3 linked regions of the Homo sapiens genome follow. The protein of the gene in region 1 purifies or fractionates together with the protein of each later gene. This does not show direct contact. Each region holds a gene or a part of one and is shown on either strand. Other genes may lie near its edges.

Region 1 (7,767 bases):
GCAGTGGCCGTCCCCAGCAGCAGCAAGGTCCCTGCCAGCAGAGGAAGCAACGCGGGGACCACGGACGGCCCCGGGTGCGCGGCGTCGGTGGTGCCGGCGCGGGGCGCCAGGTCGCAGGCGGTGTAGGGCTCCAGGCAGGCGGCGAAGGCCATGACGTGCGCTATGAAGGTCTGCTCCTGCACGCCGTGAACCAGGTGCGCCTGCGGGCCGCGCGCGAACACCGCCACGTCCTCGCCTGCGTGGGTCTCTCCGTCCAGGGGCACTGCTGACTGCTGCCGATACTCGGGGCTCCCTGGTTGGAGGGTTCAGTTTCAGTAGGAAGTTTCAGTTCCAGGCAGACAAGAGGTGACCCCTTCCCGCCAGCCCCCCATCCTTGGCACCCTGGTCCCCCTCAGGGGGCCACCCCACGGCACTCACCGCTCTCGCTCTCCGTAACATCCGGCCGGGCGCCGTCCTTGAGCACATAGCCTGGACCGTTTCCGTATAGGAGGACCGTGTAGGCCTTCCTGTCCCGGGCCTTGCCAGGGGCCAGCCCTGCAGAGAGAGGGGTCCCTGTGGTTGAGCTGAACACAGCTGTGGAGTGTCTCCCACGTGCTAGGCACCGCCACGTTTTGCCTGGTCAGGGGCTTAGTCCGCAGGAGACCCTACAGGGCTGGTGCCAGCATTACTCCCATTTGACAGAGGAGGAGACTGAGGCTCAGATTTCACCCACTTAATTGCTGCAGCAGCACCTGCCACTCTCCCCAGGCCTACCGAAGATGGAGCTCCCTCGCAGGGGGTAGCCTCCGAAGGAGAAGACGTGGGAGTGGTCGGCAGTGACGAGGCTCAGCGTGTCCTCCTCGCTGGTGAGCTGGCCCGCCCTCTCAATGGCGTCGTCGAACATGATCGTCTCAGTCAGTGCCCGGTAAGCCCTGCTTTCATGATGACCATGGTCGATGCGACCACCTGCAGGAAGGCCAGAGGGGGGAGATGCTGAGCCTGCCCTGCTCCAACCCCCAACCCCCACTCCCCAGGGGCCACCACGCACCCTCCACGAAGAGGAAGAAGCCGCGGGGGTTCCTGCTCAGCAGGAGCAGGGCAGCCTCTGTCATCTCCATCAGGGAGGGGTCCAGTGTGGAGTCTCGGTGGATCTCGTATTTCATGTCTCCAGGCTCAAAGAGACCTGTGGGACAAGGGGTCCTGTGGTGACTGGCAGGCTGGGGGTGGGAGGGTGCTGGCGGATGTGCACACAGGCTCAGAAGGTGCCATCTGAGGCCATCTGAGGGATGCCAGGGCAGGAAGGGGGTCATTACCCATGAGATGGGTCACAGACGGGTCCAGGGAAGCCTGCAGGAGCTCAGTGCGGTTCCACACGTACCGGGCACCCTGCGGGGAGGGAGAGAGCCAGGCCTCAGCCCACAGCCCCGAGCCCCACACCTCTGCCCTCCCCCTGCTGTGCCCAGCACACCCACCAGCCCCCATCACCTGGTGCTTCGCCAGCCATTCCTGCACCAGATTCTTCCCGTCCAGCCTGGTCCCACCTTGGCTGTAGTCATCTGGGTACTCAGGGTCTGGGGTCCCCATGGGAAACATGTACTTTCGGCCTCCACCTAGGATCACCTGGGAACAGAGGATGGGGCAGGTGGATTTGGGGGCCTGGCTGGCCCCGTGTCCCCTCCTCATGCACAGCCCCTGACTCCCCTCCCCAAGGCTGTGGGAATGGCCCAGCCTGGGCTGCGCCTTCTACGCCCCCAACCCCACCTCCAGACCCTGCTGGCCCAGATAAGGCTTTTGGTTGCCTGGGTCTGAGCTGGTGCCCCCTCCCTGCTACTCTCTGCCCAGCCCCAGCCCTTGGCCCGGGGGTCGCACATCAATGTCCATGTTGGAGATGAGCTGCGTGGCGATGTCCTGGCACCCCTCCTGGCGGGCCGAGGCAGGCACGTCGGCATCCGAGTACCAGTTGCGGTTCACCGTGTGGGCGTAGGCGCCGGCTGGCGAGGCATGCTGCACCCGTGTGGTGGTTACCACTCCCACTGACTTTCCTGAGGGTGATAGAGGTCAGGATATGCGATAGAGGTCTGTCACCTGGCCCTGACCCCACAGCGGGCCCCAGCTCACCTGCTTTCTTGGCCCGATTCATCACGGAGATGACCTCGTTGCCGCGTGTCGTGTTGCACTGGTTAAAGCGGGCGGCTGCACTCAAGCCAATGGTCTGGAAGTTGCCCTTGACCCCGCACAGGTAGGCCGTGGCTGTGGCTCCACTGTCTGGCACATGCTTGTCTACACTGTATGTCTGGGGACAGAGACACTCTGAGCTCTTCTCTGGGGCAGACAAACAAGACCCTGATCTCTGTCCTCTGGGATTCCAACTGCCTCCAGCTCCTTATTGGAGCCCCAGCTGTTTAGGGTCCCTCCCTCCTACCACACTCCATAGCCAGGATTCCCCTTCTCTGCTTGGAGGACTCTAAGGTAGCCCAGCACTTACCTTGGACAGAGCCACGTACGGGAAGCGGTCCATGGCCAGGAAGGTCTCAGGCCCCAGTTTGTCCTTCTTCTGCCCTTTTAGGATCCTGGCAGCTGTCACCGTAGACACCCCCATCCCTGAAGGAGCAGAAGTGTGTGAGGCTTGCTCCCCAGGGCTGTCCTGGAACCACTGAGGGTCCGGGCGCCGGGGCTGTGAGGGCTGCGGGGCTGGAAGGCCTGGCTCACTCACCGTCACCCAGGAAGATGATGAGGTTCTTGGCGGCTGTCTGTGCAGGCTGCAGCTTCTTGGCGGCACCCAGGGCCTCGGCTGCCTGGCGGTTCCAGAAGTCCGGGTTCTCCTCCTCAACTGGCCAGGGGGAGAGCAAAGATCAGGTCAGCCTGGGCTGGGGGGTGCCCTGTGTGTGTGTGTGTGTGTAGGGGCAGCTGGGGGAGCCTCATTACCTGGGATGATGCCCAGGGAGAGCTGTAGCCTCAGGCCCAGCAGGAGCAGCACCCAGGGCCCCTGCATGTCTGGAAGCAGTCGGAGAGCGGCGAGGCGGAAATCCCAGGTATGGAGTATGAGCTGCACTCCAGGCTGCCTGGGTTTAAATCAGGGAAAACTGTGTCCTGGCCCCTCCCCTTGTTACCACCTTGACCCCGCCCAGCCTCTTGACCTGAAGCCACACTGGCTGAAGGGAGTGGCAGGGTGTGGCTGGGCTGGGCTGGGGCTGGGGTCCTGAGAAAGGCAGCTTAGGGTGGGACCAGGTGTCCCCCAGGGAAGGGTGGGATTTTGGGTATAGTGCAGTGTGCATCCTGCCGCCAGGGGCCCCTCCCCCAACCCCTGCTCACTGTGTCTTGTGTGGAACTAGACACCCTGTCACTCGTTCATCCACCATTTTTTTTTTCTGTATTTCCTGGGAGCTGGGGGCCAGGCTCTGTTCTGGTGTCGAGAGGAGGGGAGGCTGGAAGCACACAGCCCGGGCCAGATACTGGGTTCAGCTTTCTGATGCCAGGAGCCTGGGCCCGGTGGGAAAGGGGCACATGGGGGGCTTTGCCGCTCTGGCACCCCCTTGCTCCAACATCTGGCCTTGGCCTGGACAGGTGGGGCTGGCAGGAATCTAGGCCCAGAGCTCCAGGGCTGTGGGCATCTGTGGGGCCAATGGTGACAACACTGAGTGGGGCCGGGCCAGTCCTGCCCATTGCTTACATGTTGTGTTTGATTGTGTATGTGTTTGTGTGGGTGCACTCGCACTAATGTTTGGACGACGCAGTGGGGGAGAGTCCAGTGCCCTCGGCCAGACAGGCCTGGGCTGGGTCTTCCAGAGCAGCTTGTGCACTTGATTGTGACACCTGTTCCCTTGCACAGGCAGAGGGTGCCTGGGCGGACTCTGTTTTCGGTGGGCCCTGAGCATGCCCAGAACTGTAGCCTTTCACATGGGGATCAGATGTTTTGATAGCCTCAGGCTGAGTTAAAAAGTATTTCTGCAGTTCAGATACCTTGCCATCATTTTTTTCTTTCTGTTTTATTATTATTATTTATTTATTTTTTTGAGACAGGGGCTGGCTCTGTCACCCAAGTTGGAGTGCAGTGGTGCATTCACGCCACACCTCCTAGGCTCAAGCGATCCTCCCACATCAGCCTCCCGTGTATCTTCCATTATGTGAAGCTAATTTTCAAAAATTTGTGTAGAGTCAGGATCTCTTTCTGTTACCCGTGCTGGTCTTGCACTCCTGGGCTCAGGCGATCCTTCAACACTGCTAGGGTTCCAGACTTGAGCCACCAATCTGGGCCCACATTCAGGAGAAATGGATTTGGAGAGGAACCAGAGTGCTCAAGGGTGTGTGACATGTGCCACAATCGTGGGCAAAACAGACCTCTGCCCTTGTGGAGGGCACAATCTAGTGGAAGAGGAATGTTTTTAGAGATGTACAAAGTGCTGGCCATCAAATTGTGGGGAGTTGCTGGAATAGGACAAGGGGCCTAGGAAGGCCTTTCCTAGAAAATGTGGTTTGAAGGCCGGGCACAGTGGTTCACGCCTGTAATCCCAGCACTTTGGGAGGCCGAGGCGGGTGGATCACAAGGTCAGGAGATCGAGACCATCCTGGCTAACACGGTGAAACCCTGTCTCTACTAAAAATACAAAAAATTAGCCGGGCGTGGTGGCAGGCACCTGTGGTCCCAGCTACTCGGGAGGCTGAGGCAGGAGAATGGTGTGAACCCGGAGGTGGAGCTTGCAGTGAGCCAAGATCGCGCCACTGCACTCCAGCTTGGCCGACAGAGCAAGACTCTGTCTCAAAAAAAAAAAAAAAAAAAATAGAGGAAGTGTGGTTTGAGCTGAGAATTAGGGATAACTGGGAGTTAGGCTGATAAAGGAAGGGAAGTGGTGATTGGAGGAGAAATCCTCTGTCCTTGTCTGAGATTACCCTGTGTTAGGGCAGTGGCTGACCCTTTTCTGGGATCACCCAAAATGGGATAGTGGGTGGGTGAGACATGTGGACTGTCAAAACTAGTAGATTCTGAATCCTGTCTCTGCCATGTCCTGCTGTGTGGCCTTGGGCAATTTACTTGTCTCTCTGTTGCTTCTGATAGAAAAGGAGGGTAGTGAGGGAGATTCAAGTTGAAGACAGACAGAGTTAATCATGTTTAAAGTGTTGGCTTTGGCTGCTGTGTGGAGATTGGATTAGAGCGGGGGTGTTAAGGAAGAGGGAGGGATTTGGGTTCCTGGTGAGAATCAAAGTGGCTGGGGCCAGGGTTTGGTGTTGTGGGTGGGGAAGAATAGAAAGTGATCTTTTTTTTTTTTTTTTTTGAGACTGAGTCTTGGTCTGTTACCCTGGCTGGAGTGCAATGGTGTGATCCCGGCTCACAGCAACTTCCGCTTCCGGGATTCAAGCAGTTCTGCCTGAGCCTCTTGAGTAGCTGGGATTACAGGCATGAGCCACTATGCCCGGCTAATTTTTGTATTTTTAGTAGAGATGGGGTTTCACCATCAAGGCCAGGCTGGTCTCAAACTCCTGGTCTCAAGTGATCTGCCCGCCTCCGCCACTCGAAGTGCTGGTATTATAGGTGTGATTAGAAGTGAAAATTAATTGGACTTGGTTGGTGAGGGAGTGGTCAAAGGTAACTCCCAGGTTTCTGGCTTCTGTTATTATGAGTAAAACAGAAGAGTGACTGAACTTCATTAATATATTTTCCATTTGTTGTGGTCATGCAAAAAAATGTTTTCCATCTGTTCCATTTAAAGATGAATAACAAAAATAAACCCTTATTTACTCTGTAGGGATAAATCTTTTTGAGAAAAAGATTTAAAGCCTTTGAGTCTCCCACCTTTCTCCCCAGAGGTAATGACTATCCTGTATTTTGGTTAATCTTGACTTTGCTGTTGATTGCTTTTTACCACATATGCATGTTTTCCTGAATGATATAGTGATTTGTTTAGTGTGTTTTTCAACTTTATATTTATTCTGATTAGGGTTCATTGATAATTTTATTTATTTATTTTTATTTTTTAACTCTTTTTACTTTTTTATTTTTTACACTGTAGAAGTTATCATTATAAACTTTTTCAATCCAAGGGTTTATAACAGTATTTTTTTTTTTTCATTTTCGAAAGACATTTTTTCAGTGTTTCACTCTGTCACCCAAGCTGGAGTGCAGTGGTGTGATCTCGGCTCACTGCAACCTCTGCCTCCCAGGTTCAAGTGATGCTCCTGCCTCAGCCTCCCAAGTAGCTGGGACTACAGGTGCAAGCCACCACACCCAGCTAATTTTTTGTATTTTTAATAGAGACAGGGTTTCATCATGTTGACCAGGCTGGTCTTGAACTCCTGACCTCAAGGCATCTGCCCGCCTTGGCCTCCCAAAGTGCTGGGATTACAGCCATGAGCCACCATGCCTGGCTGGTTTATCACAGTCTTAATAAAATTGGGAAAAAATTTGAAAACCAGAATAACCAAAAGGATGGCTGGGCATGGTGGTTCACACCTGTAATCCCAGTCTTTGGGAGTCCAAGTCAGAGAATTGTTTGAGCTCATGAGTTCCAGGCCAGCCTGGGTTATATATGTGCATATATATATATACCCAAAAGGTAGAAGAAACCAAATGGGGTCATCCACCCAACGAAATATCATGCAGCCTTGAAGGAGGCCCTGGAGAAGACTCTGTTACAACGTGAATGGACGGTTAGGACATTACACCTAGTGAAATATGAAAGTCACAAAAGGACAAATACCGTCTCCTGTAAAATAAGATTCTTAAAAACAATAACAAAAAGGGCAAATGCATATGAACACACTTCTCTGAGGTCCCTAGAGGAGTCAAATTCATAGAGACAGAAGTGGAATGGAGGTTACCTGGGACTGGGGGAGGGGGCAATGGATTAGGGTTAGGGTAGGGTTCGGGTTAGGGTTAGAGTTGGAGTTTAATAGGGACAGAACTTCAGGGTTGCAGGATGAGAACGTTCTGGAAATCAGCTGCACAACAATGTGTGTGTACTGAACACTTGAAAATGGTGAAGGAGGTAACTCTGATGTACCATGTTATGTAGCACAATTCAAAATTTGGTCCAAGAAGAAAAGGCTCCTCCAGCTCCACCCACCCCAGCCCAACCACAGCAGCCCCTTCTCCACTCAGGCCTGTTTACCTCAAGCCCCAGGCTTGGCCCCCAGAATCCAGGGGACCTCACCTGCTGCCCAGCCTCTGCCTGCCCTACCCCACTCCCCACCACACCTAGGGCCTCCCTCAGGCCGAGCTTTCCTGGGTCCTCCTGCCTGCACCCGCCTGACTTCCTGCTGGTTGTCCTGGACCTCTCAGGGAAGATGTCACCCTCATGGGCCCTTCCTGTCTCCTGCTTGTTGCCCCCTTAGTTCCCTCTACCTCCTGCTTCATCTTGCTGAGTTCGGAACATTCTTGGCTAAAGGTCAGAGGAGACTCACTAACAGGCACGCCCTTAATTGATTGATTGATTCACTCCAAAGGCAAAGCCAGTCAGGAGCTTTCCCAGCCATCCTGAGGTTTGGTTTTGTTTTGTTTTGTATTTTGTTCGGTGTTTTTTTTTTTTTTTGAGACGGTGTCTCACTCTCTCGCCCTGGCTGGAGTGCAGTGGCGCCATCTTCCGCACACTCTGCCTCCCAGGTTCAAACGATTTTCCCACCTCAGCCTCCCGAGTAGGTGGGGTTACAGGTGTGCACCACCACGCCCGGCTAATTTCTTTTAAATTTTTTAAATTTTTATTTACTTTGTTTTAGATGGAGTCTCACTCTGTTGCCAAGGCTGGAGTGCAGTGGCACAATCTTGGCTCACTGCAATCTCCACCTCCCAGGTCCAAG
Region 2 (6,347 bases), on another chromosome or scaffold:
TGCTTTAGATGTTTGGAATGATTTTATAGCAAATCTGAATGCTTTAGGGGTCTAAAATGATTTTCTCCCTGTTAAAAATTTCTTCTTTTCTTTAGGTGAAAGGAAGCATGTTTACACCAATGCCAAAAAGCAGATGCTAATTTCTCTTGCTCCTCCTGTTCTTACTCTTCATTTAAAGAGATTTCAGCAGGTACTCCTTGTTACCCAAAATTTGTTTTAAATATGTAACACCTACTTTATTACCTATTTTTTTCATTACTGTCTCAACATACTACTTTGTTTCTTTGGTTTTCTGTTGTTTCTTAACTGTAATGTCAATGAAGTCAGAAAGGGAAAAACATAGGGGCTAGGCAGAGGCGCATGTGAAGATGGAGGCACAATCTCCTCAGATTTCCTAGAACTCATTTATGTCCCTCTTTTTAGTACGATTGGCATCTTACTTTTATTTCAGGTTAAAAAAAGAAAAAGACTGGTGTGTTACATATATCTCATGCTTAGGAATATTAGTGATTTTTTCTGTTTTGTGTGTGGCATCTTGTTTTTACGGACCCTTGATAAAAAGACATTGGTGCCTTGGATTGTCATCATTTTGGTGACCTCATCTTTTCTGGAAAACTTTTGCTATAGCTGTATAACTTCTAAACTGTGTTGCAAATTCCGAAAGTACTTTCAGTATCTTCAGAACGTTTTGCCTCTTGTGGTTGGTATGGGCTTGACTAATTGGGTGGGCCTTTATTAACAATTCACTAAGCTTGGTTTGAGCATGAGGCTGAGAGCGTGTGTTTCACAGAAAAGTATTATGCTATCGCTGAGTTTTAAGCACTCAGAACCTGTGGTCTAATCTGGCATTTCTGGATGGCTGAAGCAGAAACATTGAGAATTTTCTCACGAGAAAAGTTGTTTTTCTTCTTTTTGAAACAGTCTTGTTCTGTCACCCAGGCTGGTGTGCAATGACACGATCATGGCTCACTGAAGGTTTGACCTCCCAGTCTCAAGCGATCCTCCCACCTTAGCCTCTATAGTAGCTGGGACTATAGGTGGCTACCACCATGTCCAGCTAATTTTTTAATTTTTTTGTAGAGACAGAGTCTCACAGTGTTGCCCAGGCTGATCTCGAACTCCTGGGCTCAAGTGATCCTCCTGCCTCAGCTTCCCAAAGTGCTGAGATTACAGGCATGTGCCATCGTGTCCAGCTGGGAATAGCTTTCTTAATGTGTTGGTGTGTGTTTTTTGTGTGATACATGTGTACTTAGCAAAAGCAAACCAACTTGGAATCAGTTAGTGTTCAGGAAGAATTGAGTCTCCAAAGAAAATTGAACTAGGACTTAATGTTGATATTCTTTTGGACGTCGGAGGGGACTTCGGTTTACTTAACCTGTATTGCTTTTCCAAGAAAAGAAGTCAATCTGTTATGCTTCTCTTTTAGGCTGGTTTTAACCTACGCAAAGTTAACAAACACATAAAGTTTCCGGAAATCTTAGATTTGGCTCCTTTTTGCACCCTTAAATGTAAGGTAAGTCAAAGTGGTCTTTTTCAGGAAAGTCCTTTAAAGTCAAATTGTGGCTTACCTAATGCTCCAGTAGCAACTCACTTAAGTATGAAGTTGATAACACTTATTGAGTAGAGTGGGTCTTTGATCATTGTACCTTTATAATTTGAAGATTAGTGATGAATCATTTTGAAGAATGGGTTATTTCAGTTCAACGTTTGGAATCCCCTTTATTATGGCATACATTGTCTTGTGAGCGGAGGGCATAAAACTAAAGGTGAGCAGATCTATTAATGAATAATCTGTTTAATGTGGTTGAATGTTAAGGCTGGTGAACATAGGTCAGGAGTGGTATACACTTAACCCAGCATGTTGGTGGTTCAGGAATGGCTTTGTAAAGTAAACCATGCCTCAACTATATTTAAAGAAGGAGTAAAAGTATGATGAATCAAGATGAAATGAGTTTTGCAGGCAGAAGGAACAGCAGGAGTAAAAACAGCAGTGTAAAATAGGATGGTGATTGCCAGAGACTGGTAACGTATGTAGTTCTAGAGTTTATAGTACAAGGTTATAGGGAGAGTTGAGAAATGAAGCCAGAGAAGTGAGATAGGAATGAAGTTTTGGAGGGTTCTCATGGTGAGGAACTTGGACTTCATTAGGTATACAGTGGGGAGCCCTGAGGAGTTTAAAGCACTGGGGTGGCATGGTCAGATCTTCATATGACGTAGGTTACTTGTTGATGTATGAAGGCTGAATTTTAGGACGGAAAGACTAGAGGTGGGGAAGTGAGTTTGGAGGCTGTTGTATTAATTCAGCCAGTAGTTGATGAGGGCTTAAAGTTGGGCAGGAGATGGGGAGATAGAAGGAATATTTCAGGAGGTAGAATTAACCAGACTTAATGATTGATTGGCACTGTAAGGTGAGGCAGAGGCCTTTTATAAGTGGATGCTGAGGGTGGCAGAGAAAGGGTTGAGGATGATTCCTGAGGCCTGGCACGACAGATGGGAGTGCTGTAAATTGAGATAGGATATATAGGGAGAAAAGCAGGTTGAGAAAAGCAGGTAGAGAAAGGATAATGACTTCAGTTTTAGATACATTTGAGTGTCAGATACCTTTGAGAAATTAATGTGCTTAGTCTAGAAAACATTTGGATATACATATCTGAGACCTATAGCAGAGAGGTTAGGATGGGCCCAGGGCACAGATTTAGAAATCAGTACATATGTGGCAGTTTAAACTATGAGAAGATGGGATCCCTTGTGTATAGAGTCTGAAGAGAGAAAAAGGAGATGGCCAATGACAGGACCCTCCTAAGTATCTGAGTGGAAGAGGCAGGGGTAGAAAGTGAGGACACCACAAAGGATCTCAAAGAATCTCCATGTTGAAGAATTTGGGGCTGGGCGTGGTGGCTTACGCCTGTAATGCCAACACTTTGGGAGGCCGAGGCGGGTGGATCACTTGAGGTGAGGAGTTCGAGACCAGCCTGGCCAGCATGGTGAAACCCTGTCTCTACTGAAAATACAAAAATTAGCCAGGCATGGTGGTGTGCGCCTGTAATCCCAGCTACTCGGGAGGCTGAGGCAGGAGAATTGCTGGAACCTGGGAGGCAGAGCTGCAGTGAGCCGAGATTGCGTCACTGCACTCCTGCCTAGGTGACAGAGCAAGAAACTCCCTCAAAAAAAAAAAAAAGTCTGGGCCAGTTGCTGTGATGGGCATAATGGAAGAGGCCGCTAAGGACAATTTATAAGATTATGGTCACATTGAGGACTATGACAAGGTACATGATCATTTATTATACTTTTGTTTCTTGGCAGTAGTGGCCATCTGGGTTTGGGGCATGGCAGGTACATTATAGGATTCAGGGTGAGGTTTTGTGATGAATTGGATATGGAGGAGATTATTTGTAAGTGATACATGTGATTGAAGTTCCCAAACTTTAATGTGTATGTGGGAATCAGACCTACAAATTTTGATTCTGTAGGTCTAGTATGGGATCAAAAATTCTGCATGTTTAATGTAAACTCTCAGGTGATGCTGATGCTGGCTGTTCATGGACCACATTTTGAATAGCAATGGTCTAGACTGCATATGGGAATTATATTATGTCAGTTTCCATGCTGCTGATAAAGATATACTGGACAAGATATACTGGGCAAGACTGGGCAATTTACAAAAGAAAGAGGTTTACAGTTCCACATGGCTGGGGAGGCCTCACAGTCATGGCGGAAGGCAAGGAGGAGCACGTCACATCTTACATGGATGGCAGCGGGCAAAGCAAGAGCTTGTGGAGGGAAACTCCCCCTTAAGAAACCATCAGCTCTCATGAGGCTTATTCACTATCAAGAATAAGGATGGGAAAGACCTGCTCCCATGATTCAGTTGCGTCCCAACGGGTACCCTCCCATGACATGTGGGAATTGTGGGAGCTACAACTCAAGATGAGATTTGGGTAGGGACACAGCCAAACCATATCAGGAATGAAGCCAAAAGTCTTCATAGGTGAGGAGAATATGAGCATTGGAGATCCTGTTAGGTTAAAGAGTACAGAATAGGTGAGATGAGAGTTGAATAAATAGAAGACTTGTGGACTAAGACTAAAAATAAGATTTATGTCCCTTCAGCTCAGGAGTTTGAGACCAGCCCAGGCAACATGCTGAAACCCCATCTCTACAAAAAATTAATTTAGCAGGTCATGGTGGTGTGCACCTGTAGTCCCAGCTATTCCAGAGGCTGAGGCGGGAGGATCACTTGAGCCCAGGAGGCAGAGGTTGCATTGAGCTGAGATCATGCCACTGCACTCCAGCCTGGGTGACGGAGTGAGACCCTGTCTCAAAAAAAATTTTATGAAGTTGAACAATTCTGAGTGATGACAAGCCCAGACTCTAGTCCTGGGTGTGGTTGACTAAAATGGAATGGCATTTAAAGTCCTGTGAGAATCATAGATGGACGGAGAAGTACTAAGTTCTTCAGTGAATATGGAGGCACAGATTGGGAAGCTGAGTATAGGAGACAGTACTACTGAAGGGCCGTGATGCCTGTTACGGACTTTTACATGAGAACATAAATAGTTGTCTGAAAAGTGGCTCCTGGCCCAGAGAATGCCTGTTCCTGTTGCCAGCCCTATGGCATATAGAGTCCTGAAAGAATAAGCAGCGTGCACTCTCTCGTGGGGAAAGTGAACACTTGAGAGGTTGAATGTGCTTCTCACCAACTCCCTTGGGGACATTTAAAGATGTAAGGGGTAATTTTTGGCACAACCTAAAATACTGTTCTCTTCCTGTTCAGGGCTTACCTTTTTTTAAACAGGGTATTCAGAGTTGTTAATAGCTAGGGTTGTTAAGAATTATCCTCAGGCTCCTAAAGAAACTGGCAAGTTGAATTCAGTTATTTGGTATCTGAGCCAGGTAACTGCATCAAGTGGCCTGTGGCTTACAGCTTTTCTACCAGGGGAACAATGGTGAATTTATAATAAAAACAGAAGTGTCTCAGGCTGAGAAGAGGTATGGAGAAAAGAGTAGACTCATGAATGATTTCTGCACTCTCAAAGTAATGGTTAAAGACCCTTTGCATAGTGTAAACTTGTCTTGCCCATGACATCTGTGTAAATGGAACTAGAACTAACTTTTGGATTCTACTCATTTTTAAAGAATGTTGCAGAAGAAAATACAAGGGTACTCTATTCCTTATATGGAGTTGTTGAACACAGTGGTACTATGAGGTCGGGGCATTACACTGCCTATGCCAAGGCAAGAACCGCAAATAGTCATCTCTCTAATCTTGTTCTTCACGGTGATATTCCACAAGGTAAGATGTCTTGGAAAATTCAGGCACTCAGCAGATTACGGCAAAACCAAAAAGTAATCAACTTGAATCTTTCCATTTATGTTTGATTTTTCATTTTCTCATGACAGATTTTGAAATGGAATCAAAAGGGCAGTGGTTTCACATCAGCGACACACATGTGCAAGCTGTGCCTACAACTAAAGTACTAAACTCACAAGCGTACCTCCTATTTTATGAGAGAATACTGTAATAATATCAAAAGCACTTTTTCTGGAAACACATTTATGGCTTTTATAATGGCTGAAATAACGATAAAAAAAGACTAATTAAAATCATGTTCACTTAACATTAAATACATGCCAGAAGAAATCATGTTTATTTAAATATTGAAGGGAAAAATACCTAAAAATGTACAAAGGTTTTATATTGTCATAGTGGTTTTTATTCCTGCTTTGTTTCTGGAAAGGAAATCCTGAATTACTTAAGTACTTTGTGTTTAATATATCTGGGTGATGGATCACAACACATCAATAAACTGACTTACCCTAAAATCTTGTTTTATTACTGGGAAGATTTTAACTTCTATTGACTTATCCTACTAGGTAACACTTTAAAAAATATTTCATCAGACTGGCTAATGAAGCTTCATTACAAGTGTGTTAATTTTTTTTTTTTTTTTTTTTTTTTTTTTTTGAGACGGAGTCTTGCTCTGTCGCCCAGGCTGGAGTGCAGTGGTGCGATCTCAGCTTACTGCAAGCTCTGCCTCCTAGGTTCACGCCATTCTCCTGTCTCAGCCTCCCGAGCAGCTGGGACTACAGGCGCCCGCCACCACGCCCAGCTAATTATTTGTATTTTTAGTAGAGACAGGGTTTCACCGTGTTAGCCAGGATGGTCTCGATCTCCTGACCTCGTGATCCACCTGCCTTGGCCTCCCAAAGTGCTGGGATTACAGGCTTGAGCCACCGCGCTGGGCCATACAAGTGTGTTAATTTTATAAGCATCTATATTGACAGCAGAATATAAATGGGAGCAATGTTTCTTTATAAGCCTTCTGATGCCATAGTGTGCATAAGCT
Region 3 (7,026 bases), on another chromosome or scaffold:
TATTGCCAAACCTAATCCTAATTGATAGAAGAAGCTTATTCGAACCAATGATATTGATAAAATAATAGGTATTAGCTTTTATTTTTCACATGCCTGTCTGTCACTTCCCTGTGTGAGCCAACTTTGTATTTCTTAGCACCTGCCAAAATTGGGGATGGTTTTTCATTCTGAGCCAGGTCTTGCCCAGATTCCTTTCATTGCAATGAGTCAGAAATTTTAGGACACCAAGAGTCAGACCTAATTCCAGGTTGTTTTGTGTTTTTTGATTCTTAAAACCTTCTCTTTATTTCTTAAGCAGTATGCAGATATTACTGGCACAGATTTTAATCTTCTGGATGGATTCTTTGTCATCCAGGTAGTCCAGGACCTCCGAGTTGGCATGGCTCCCCAGGTCATGGACTTGACCCAGGGGAGTTTGCCAGTAGCCAACAGCTAAGCCAGTGGGAGGGAGGGAGAGCATCTGTTTCAAATAGCAGTGTGAATTCGAAGGAGGTGCTTTGACCCCTTTGGTAACTTCCTGCGGGACAAACATTGTGGGCTCGGTATTTGAGCACTTCCTTATAATTGGCTCTTTTGGAGCCAGGTTTTTTTGGTGTGTTTTACTAGACTCATTATGAAGCAAGCAAGCAAGCATAATTTTTAGGCATAAAGGTACTACTTAGAGAAAATTTGCAAATGTTCTGTTTTTCCTCTTGTAGCATTATGTGTGATCCATCTTTGGCTTTGCACAGATTACTTCTTAAGAACAATATATGGGAGTCCCCATAGGTTAATCTCATCTTTTCCATGATAAAGGAAAAGTTGTGAGTTTCAAGGGTTCATCAGACCTATTGAGGAAGTTCTTCCTTACTACCATGATTTCAAAGTTCTAGTCACTAAGCAACTCCCAAAGAAACCTGATTTAACGTAGGCGTTGACTTGAACTACTAGAAGAATGTCAATTTAAAAATAGTGTTAAAAAGAAAAACTGCCCAAAGCCTCTCATTTATTCAGAGTAATGTGGGTACCTACTGTGTGTCAGGCATCGTGATATTGCAGGAACAAGACAGATCTAGTCTGTCTCTACCCTTGGGGAGCTTGCAGCCCGAAAGGCAAGGTGATGTTAAGCAGTAATGACTACAGAATGAATCGTGTCTGTGCCAAATGCTGTGGAAGAGATGTTCAGGATGCTGTGAGAACATGCTGCAGGGAGATAGATGGCTTTTGCCTAGACTGGGGAGATGGATCTCAACAGGGAGCCATCTTGCACCCCAGGGAACGTTTGTTGCTGTCTGGATACTTTTTGGTTATCCCAGGGGCTGGTTTGGCAGAGGGTGCTACTGACATCTAGAGTCAGGGGTGCTGCTGAACATCCTACAAAGGCACAGGACAGTTCCACCCCACCATCGAACAATTAATTATCGGATCCAAAATGCCAACAGTGGCAAGCTTGAGAAACTGTGGGGTAAGGGTCAAGGAAGGCTTCCTAGAGGATGTGACGTTAGAGCTCAGACCCGAAAGGGAAGCAGAAATCAGGTAAGTGGGTGGCAGAGCTTGGTGGTGAAGGAGCCAAGTGGAGAAAGGACGGAGGACTGAAGGGCTGGCAAGATCATTAGGGGCCAGGTTGGGTAGGGCCTTGCAGATCAGGGGACATATTTTGGGGTCATCCTTAGAGCAGAGGGAAGTGTTTGAAGGGCTGTAGTGGGGCAGTATGTGATATGGCTGCCGTTTCCTGAAACTCACTCTGGCTGTCTGATGGAGCAGGAGTTGGAGGGGGCCATTGTGGATATAGGGAACTGTGAGGAGGCTGCTGGACACAGGTTGTGAGAGATGATTAATAATCTCTCAGACTCTGGGACTGATTAGGTTCAGTGTGCTGGGAGAAAGGGTGGGGGAAAGGATGAGTCATACATTTCTGTCACATCCACCATGGGTAGTAGTGCTGTTTACTAACTTGGGCACTGAAGGAGGAGGACCAGGTTTTTAAAAACAGTTTTATGTGGTTCAATGTACATAACATACAGTTTATTAAGTATAATGAATTTTAAGTGTATAGTTCTATGGCATTAAGTACTTACACAATTTTTTGAAATGTACTTTGACTTTTAATTTTAGGGGGAGGTGAAGCTGAGTAAGTTCAGTTTTGGACAAGTTGAGTTCAAAATGCATGTGAGATGGCCAGGTACCATGTTAGGTGAGCAGTTAGATATTTGGGTCTGTAGAGGACAGGTCTGGCTGGAAGGTATTTTGGGGGGTCATTATATTAGGTGGCAATTTGAGTAGGTTTTTTTTTTTTGTTTTTTTTTTTAAGAGTTGGGTGTCTGGTCGGGCATGGTGGCTCACACCTGTAATTTCAGCACTTTAGGAGGCTGAGGCAGGCAGATCATTTGAGGTCAGGAGTTCAGGACCAGCCTGGCCAACAAGGTGAAACCCCATCTCTACTAAAAATACAAAAAAATTACCCGCGCATGGTGGCGTGTGTTTGTAGTCCCAGCTACTTAGGAGGCTGAGGCAGGACAATCGCTTGAACCCAGGAGGCCGAGGTTGTAGTGAGCAAAGATTGCACCACTGCACTTCAGCCTGGGTGACAGAGTGAGACTCCGTCTAAAAGAAAAAAAAAAGTTGGCGGGTCTGGCTATATTGCCCAGGCTGGACCTGAACTCCTGGCCTCAAGTCATCTGTCTGCCTTAGCCTCCCAAGCAACTGGGACTACAGGAATGTTCCACTGCACTTGGCTGTTTTATGTTTGTTTGTTTTTAAGGAAGAGAGTCTTGCTTAACAGAATAAATTCATTTAAGCATTTACTCAAAATGTGTATATACCAAAGATTTGGTAGAAGTTGGAGAGGAAAGCAGTCTTTATCTACATATATCTGCATGTTGTAAAGCTGAGGGTTTAGACAAAACAAAAATAAAAACAAAAACAAGTATAAGTATCATCAAATAAGAGTTGAATGTATCTTAAGTATAGCAGTGCCATTTCCTCCTAGGGATATGACTTATTTTCACTCCTAAAAGAATATTTTATGTAGCTGAAAAGATGATATATTTTAGTTTATATCATTGCTTCCCGTAAGAAACTCAAGGCTCTTTACACATCACGTTGAATTTATCTTCTCCAGATCCTTGATGGGGGATATGGAGGAGCTTGTTTTTCGTTTACGAGCTAAATGAAGTAAAGGACGTTAAATGGCCTCAGCCCGTTGTGAAAATAGCCCCATTCAGTTCCCTTGAGTTCCTGTCTAGTTGCCCTTCCCAGTGTGTGTCAGACTTCAGCACACATGAGAATCATCTGTGTGTCCTAAAGAAGCCTGTATTTGTTAAAATGCAGATTCCTGCGTTCCAGCTCCAGATTTTCTGATTCAGAAGATCTGAAATGAGACTTCCAGGTAAGTTTTCTGTGAAGCCAGGTGTGAGAACCCTGCCTGGGCCACCATAGGCCCGGATATAAACTAGGACTCTTACTGGGTGATTTCTGTGAACATCTGTGGAATATAAAGATGATCAAGCCCGGGCGCAGTGGCTCACGCCTGTAATCCCAGCACTTTGGGAGGCTGAGGTGGGCGGATCACGAGGTCAGGGGTTCGAGACCAGCCTGGTCAACATAGTGAAACCCTGTCTCTACTAAAAATGCAAAAAAAAAAAAAAAAAAAGGTAGCCGGGCATGGTGGCGGGTGCTTGTAATCCCAGCTACTCGAGAGGCTGAGGCAGGAGAATCGGAGGTTGCAGTGAGCCAAGATCATGCCATTGCACTCCAGCCCGGGCGACAGTGCGAGACTCCATCTCAGAAAACAAAAAAAAACAAAAGATGATCGGTGGTTGTTTTGCCTTAAAGTAAGGAGTTGTTCTGGAGAGAGCAAAGTGTGGCATTGAGGCCTACTCCTCAGTCAGGTCTTTTGTGTACTTGGGAAAGGAACTGGAAACACCAGAACTAAAACTATGAAGTCTGTCTCAGGCTCCAGGATCATTTGGCAAATTTTTAAATGCTGCTGAGGAGACCATAGTCCGTGGAGCATGAGTATCAAAAGTTAGAGCCGTGAGTTGTTAAAGCAAAGGTTTTTGGGCAATATACAAATAAGTTTCTAAAGGCTTAGAGCGTCTCAGATTGTGTGTACCATGGATTGAGTGGTACTGAAAGGGGTACTTACTTTATCTGTATGTCTGTTTATCCATCTACCTACCCATCTGCACACTAAGGGGGTACTTTTAAAGACCTACTTCTTGTAATTAATAAGATGCCCAAAAGTTAATCATAAATTATATTTTTATAAGTTAAGCCTGACAGTTAACTGTTCCATAGTACACTTGCAATTTAAAGGAATCGCGTAAACTGCTAATTTTTTTTTTTTGTTTGAATGTTTGCTGTGTTCCTCTTTGATGTGTTCTGTAGTAGGCTGTGTGACCAGGGATTTTTCTGACCCTTCCTATGACTTAGGCTATGGAACATGCTAGTGAGGGTGGGGTTTTAAATCTCACCCCCAAGACTGTTTTGAGTTGCAATTTTCTGGTTTGCATATCCTGAGTGACGGTTTTTAAACAAGATGCAAATCAAAGTATGAAATGATCTTTTCCCTCTTGAATATATATAGTTATTTTCTATTTTTCTCTTTTTTTTTCACTATCTACTGTGCTTCCTGTAAAATATATTTACTCTCTGGCCCATAGAATATGTTGGTCTCATCAAACTTTGTTGTCAAGTGAAGAAAAGCTAATATTCCAGTGTTTCCCATGACTTCTGTAATAAAACAGGAGAGGAGTTTCAGATGGAACTAGATCATATCTGAGTCGATAGTAGGCTCAAAGCAGGAATATTGTGTCTGCATGCTTGCTGCCTCAGTGTGGTGGGAGGCTTGGCCTCCTTCCTCACTACTTCTCTCCACTGGCTGAATTGTCCTGGCATCTTTCCCAGCAGCAGATCTCTTTTCCTAAGAGTTTACTGTTTGGCACTTGAGCAAAAGGCTCAATAGGTTTTACCATAGGCCAGGTACTGTTTTGAACCTGAACATACATGAACTCACTTAATTCTTGTTCCATTTCTTCCCTCTACAGGGAGGGAAACAGAGGCTCAGAGAGGTTGCTTAACTATTAAGTGGCAGCGCTCGGATTTGAACCTAGGAGGTTTGAGTATACTTTGTCTTTGTACTTTGTACTCTGTACACAGTACAAAGTACTCTGTACTTTGACCTTATGCTGTATGACTTCTCAGGCAGGGCCCCGGCCCGGGTCTCCTCTACTGCCACATCTTTCTGTTGTACAGTGCAGCTTTAAGGAGAGAGTTCTTTGAAAGGATTCATTAAACAGCTGCCTTCTCTCCTGCTTCTCCTCCCCATCTGGCCATTCCTTTTGTCTCCTTTGCAGTTTTGTCCTTAAATGTTGCAGTTCCCCTGAGCCGTCCTTGGCCTCACGAGCCTTGGCTTCCGTTCTGGTGCGCTGTGGAGACTCTAGTGCTGCAGCCGCTATTGCACGCACACCCCTGTGCTGGGCTCACCCCTGCACCCGGCTCTCCTGCCTGTCTGCACTTGCGTATCCTCAGGACGCTGGGCACCAAGTTGCCTTCCCTCACACGTGCTACCCTCCTTTATTCTAGGAAGCCCCAGGCCCTCCCTTCCCGTCTCACCCCCCACCCGGGTGCTCTGTCTCAGAGCCTGCAGCTTCTGCTTCTTTAGTGGCCCCCCCCCCCCGCTCACTGCCACCTTCATTGAGGCCCTTAGCGCTCTTTGCTTGACTCCAGTGGCCTTCCCACTGGCATGTTTGTGTCCTTTCTTGTCCTCCCACAGCCGTCCCACACACTGCCTCCAGAAAGCTGTCTTGGGCACACATCTCAACAGGGCATTCCCTCCTTAAAACCTCAAACAGCTGTTCCTGGCTCAGGAAAAACCTGACTCCCCAATACCACCCCCTCCCATGATATGGCCCCTGGTACCTTCAGCCTCATTTCTAGCCCCAGCCACCCGTCCCCACAGGGGTTCCTGCCCGGGTCACCCCCTCCTCAGAGGGGTCCCTGCCCGGCCGGGTCACCCCCTCCCCTCAAGGGACCCTGCCTGGGTCACTCCCTCTTCTGAGGTATTTCTGCCACCAAGTGTGTTGACCCTGCCATTGGCCTGCCCTGTATAAAACCCAAGAGGGAGAGAATAAAATCCGATGCCCCTTAAAAAACGTACGGAGTGACAGGGCCTTCCATCCCATGGTTGGAGGTGCTGTCCCATGGTAGATGGAGCTGCTACCCAGCTTGTCTGCTACTGTGGGGACAGGGGACAGTGGATTTGTCCCAGTAGGGTGGAGAAAAGGCAGACTTTACCTCTGTCGCTGGGCTGCAGGGGTGTTTGTTTCTGTCCCTCTGCTACCATGGATTATCTTCAAAGTGGGTACTTGGAAACAAGTAAGTTGGCTATGCGCCATGCATCCTGGAGCTTAAGGCCCCCTGGAGGACCTGGAATTAATCCTGGAAAGCTCCACGGAGAGGCAGCTGCTGGAGGCTGGAGCCAGCTGGGTGACATGCTTTGTAAGTAGGTCACAGGAAAGAAAGTGAAGCCCCAAAGGCTTCCTCCCCCAGCGTGTTAGAAAAGAAGTGGCAGCCTGCATAGCCTGGAAGGAGCGCCTGAGCCATGTGTGCTTCCAAGACGGCTCTCTGTGAGCTTTGGCCTGGGTGGCAGAGCCACAGGTACCGGGTTTTATGCTCTCCTGGCTTTTGTGCAGGGCAGGCAACCACCTAGACACTTCCCAGACTGCCAGTCATTATCATTGTGGTCACCAGCATGGCCACAGCTATTGGCTGAGCTTTTTTATATATTCTGAGCTGATGCCAAAAGTTTAGGCATTATCTCATTGGTTCCTGCCAGCGCCCTCTGAGGTGGAGTTATTTGGCAGCTTAGTGGTTTTCTTGTTTTTACTGTTCCGTTTGGTTTCTATGATAGATGTTCCTGGGAAAGTTTGGGAAAACAAATTAAGAGAATTGGGACAAAATCAAGTTAGGAGGTAGAAGGCACAATCATCTTTCCTGCGTGGGAATGGGGGTCCCTTGCTCCCTCACAGGAACAGGGAAAGAGAG

Evidence for each region. Proteins that work in one complex are often made in the same cells at the same time.
Region 2: the proteins of ALPG (region 1) and USP16 purify together in Homo sapiens (affinity purification with mass spectrometry; 2 studies listed by BioGRID and IntAct, with this or other methods). This does not show direct contact.
Region 3: the proteins of ALPG (region 1) and B3GLCT purify together in Homo sapiens (affinity purification with mass spectrometry; 2 studies listed by BioGRID and IntAct, with this or other methods). This does not show direct contact.

Annotation. Positions count from the first base shown.
Region 1 is NC_000002.12:232,402,099-232,409,865, reverse strand, and holds the start of ALPG (alkaline phosphatase, germ cell type preproprotein), read right to left. Parts: upstream 3,023-7,767; 5' UTR 2,972-3,022; coding exon 2,905-2,971; intron 2,810-2,904; coding exon 2,693-2,809; intron 2,581-2,692; coding exon 2,465-2,580; intron 2,273-2,464; coding exon 2,098-2,272; intron 2,022-2,097; coding exon 1,849-2,021; intron 1,600-1,848; coding exon 1,465-1,599; intron 1,366-1,464; coding exon 1,293-1,365; intron 1,163-1,292; coding exon 1,028-1,162; intron 946-1,027; coding exon 754-945; intron 535-753; coding exon 418-534; intron 293-417; coding exon 1-292.
Region 2 is NC_000021.9:29,048,666-29,055,012, forward strand, and holds the end of USP16 (ubiquitin carboxyl-terminal hydrolase 16), read left to right. Parts: intron 1-95; coding exon 96-190; intron 191-1,426; coding exon 1,427-1,513; intron 1,514-5,136; coding exon 5,137-5,293; intron 5,294-5,400; coding exon 5,401-5,522; 3' UTR 5,523-5,823; downstream 5,824-6,347. UniProt on the Homo sapiens protein: Specifically deubiquitinates 'Lys-120' of histone H2A (H2AK119Ub), a specific tag for epigenetic transcriptional repression, thereby acting as a coactivator.
Region 3 is NC_000013.11:31,202,973-31,209,998, forward strand, and holds part of B3GLCT (beta-1,3-glucosyltransferase precursor), read left to right. Parts: intron 1-3,314; exon of another isoform or gene 3,315-3,354; coding exon of another isoform or gene 3,355-3,367; intron 3,368-7,026. UniProt on the Homo sapiens protein: O-glucosyltransferase that transfers glucose toward fucose with a beta-1,3 linkage. Specifically glucosylates O-linked fucosylglycan on TSP type-1 domains of proteins, thereby contributing to elongation of O-fucosylglycan.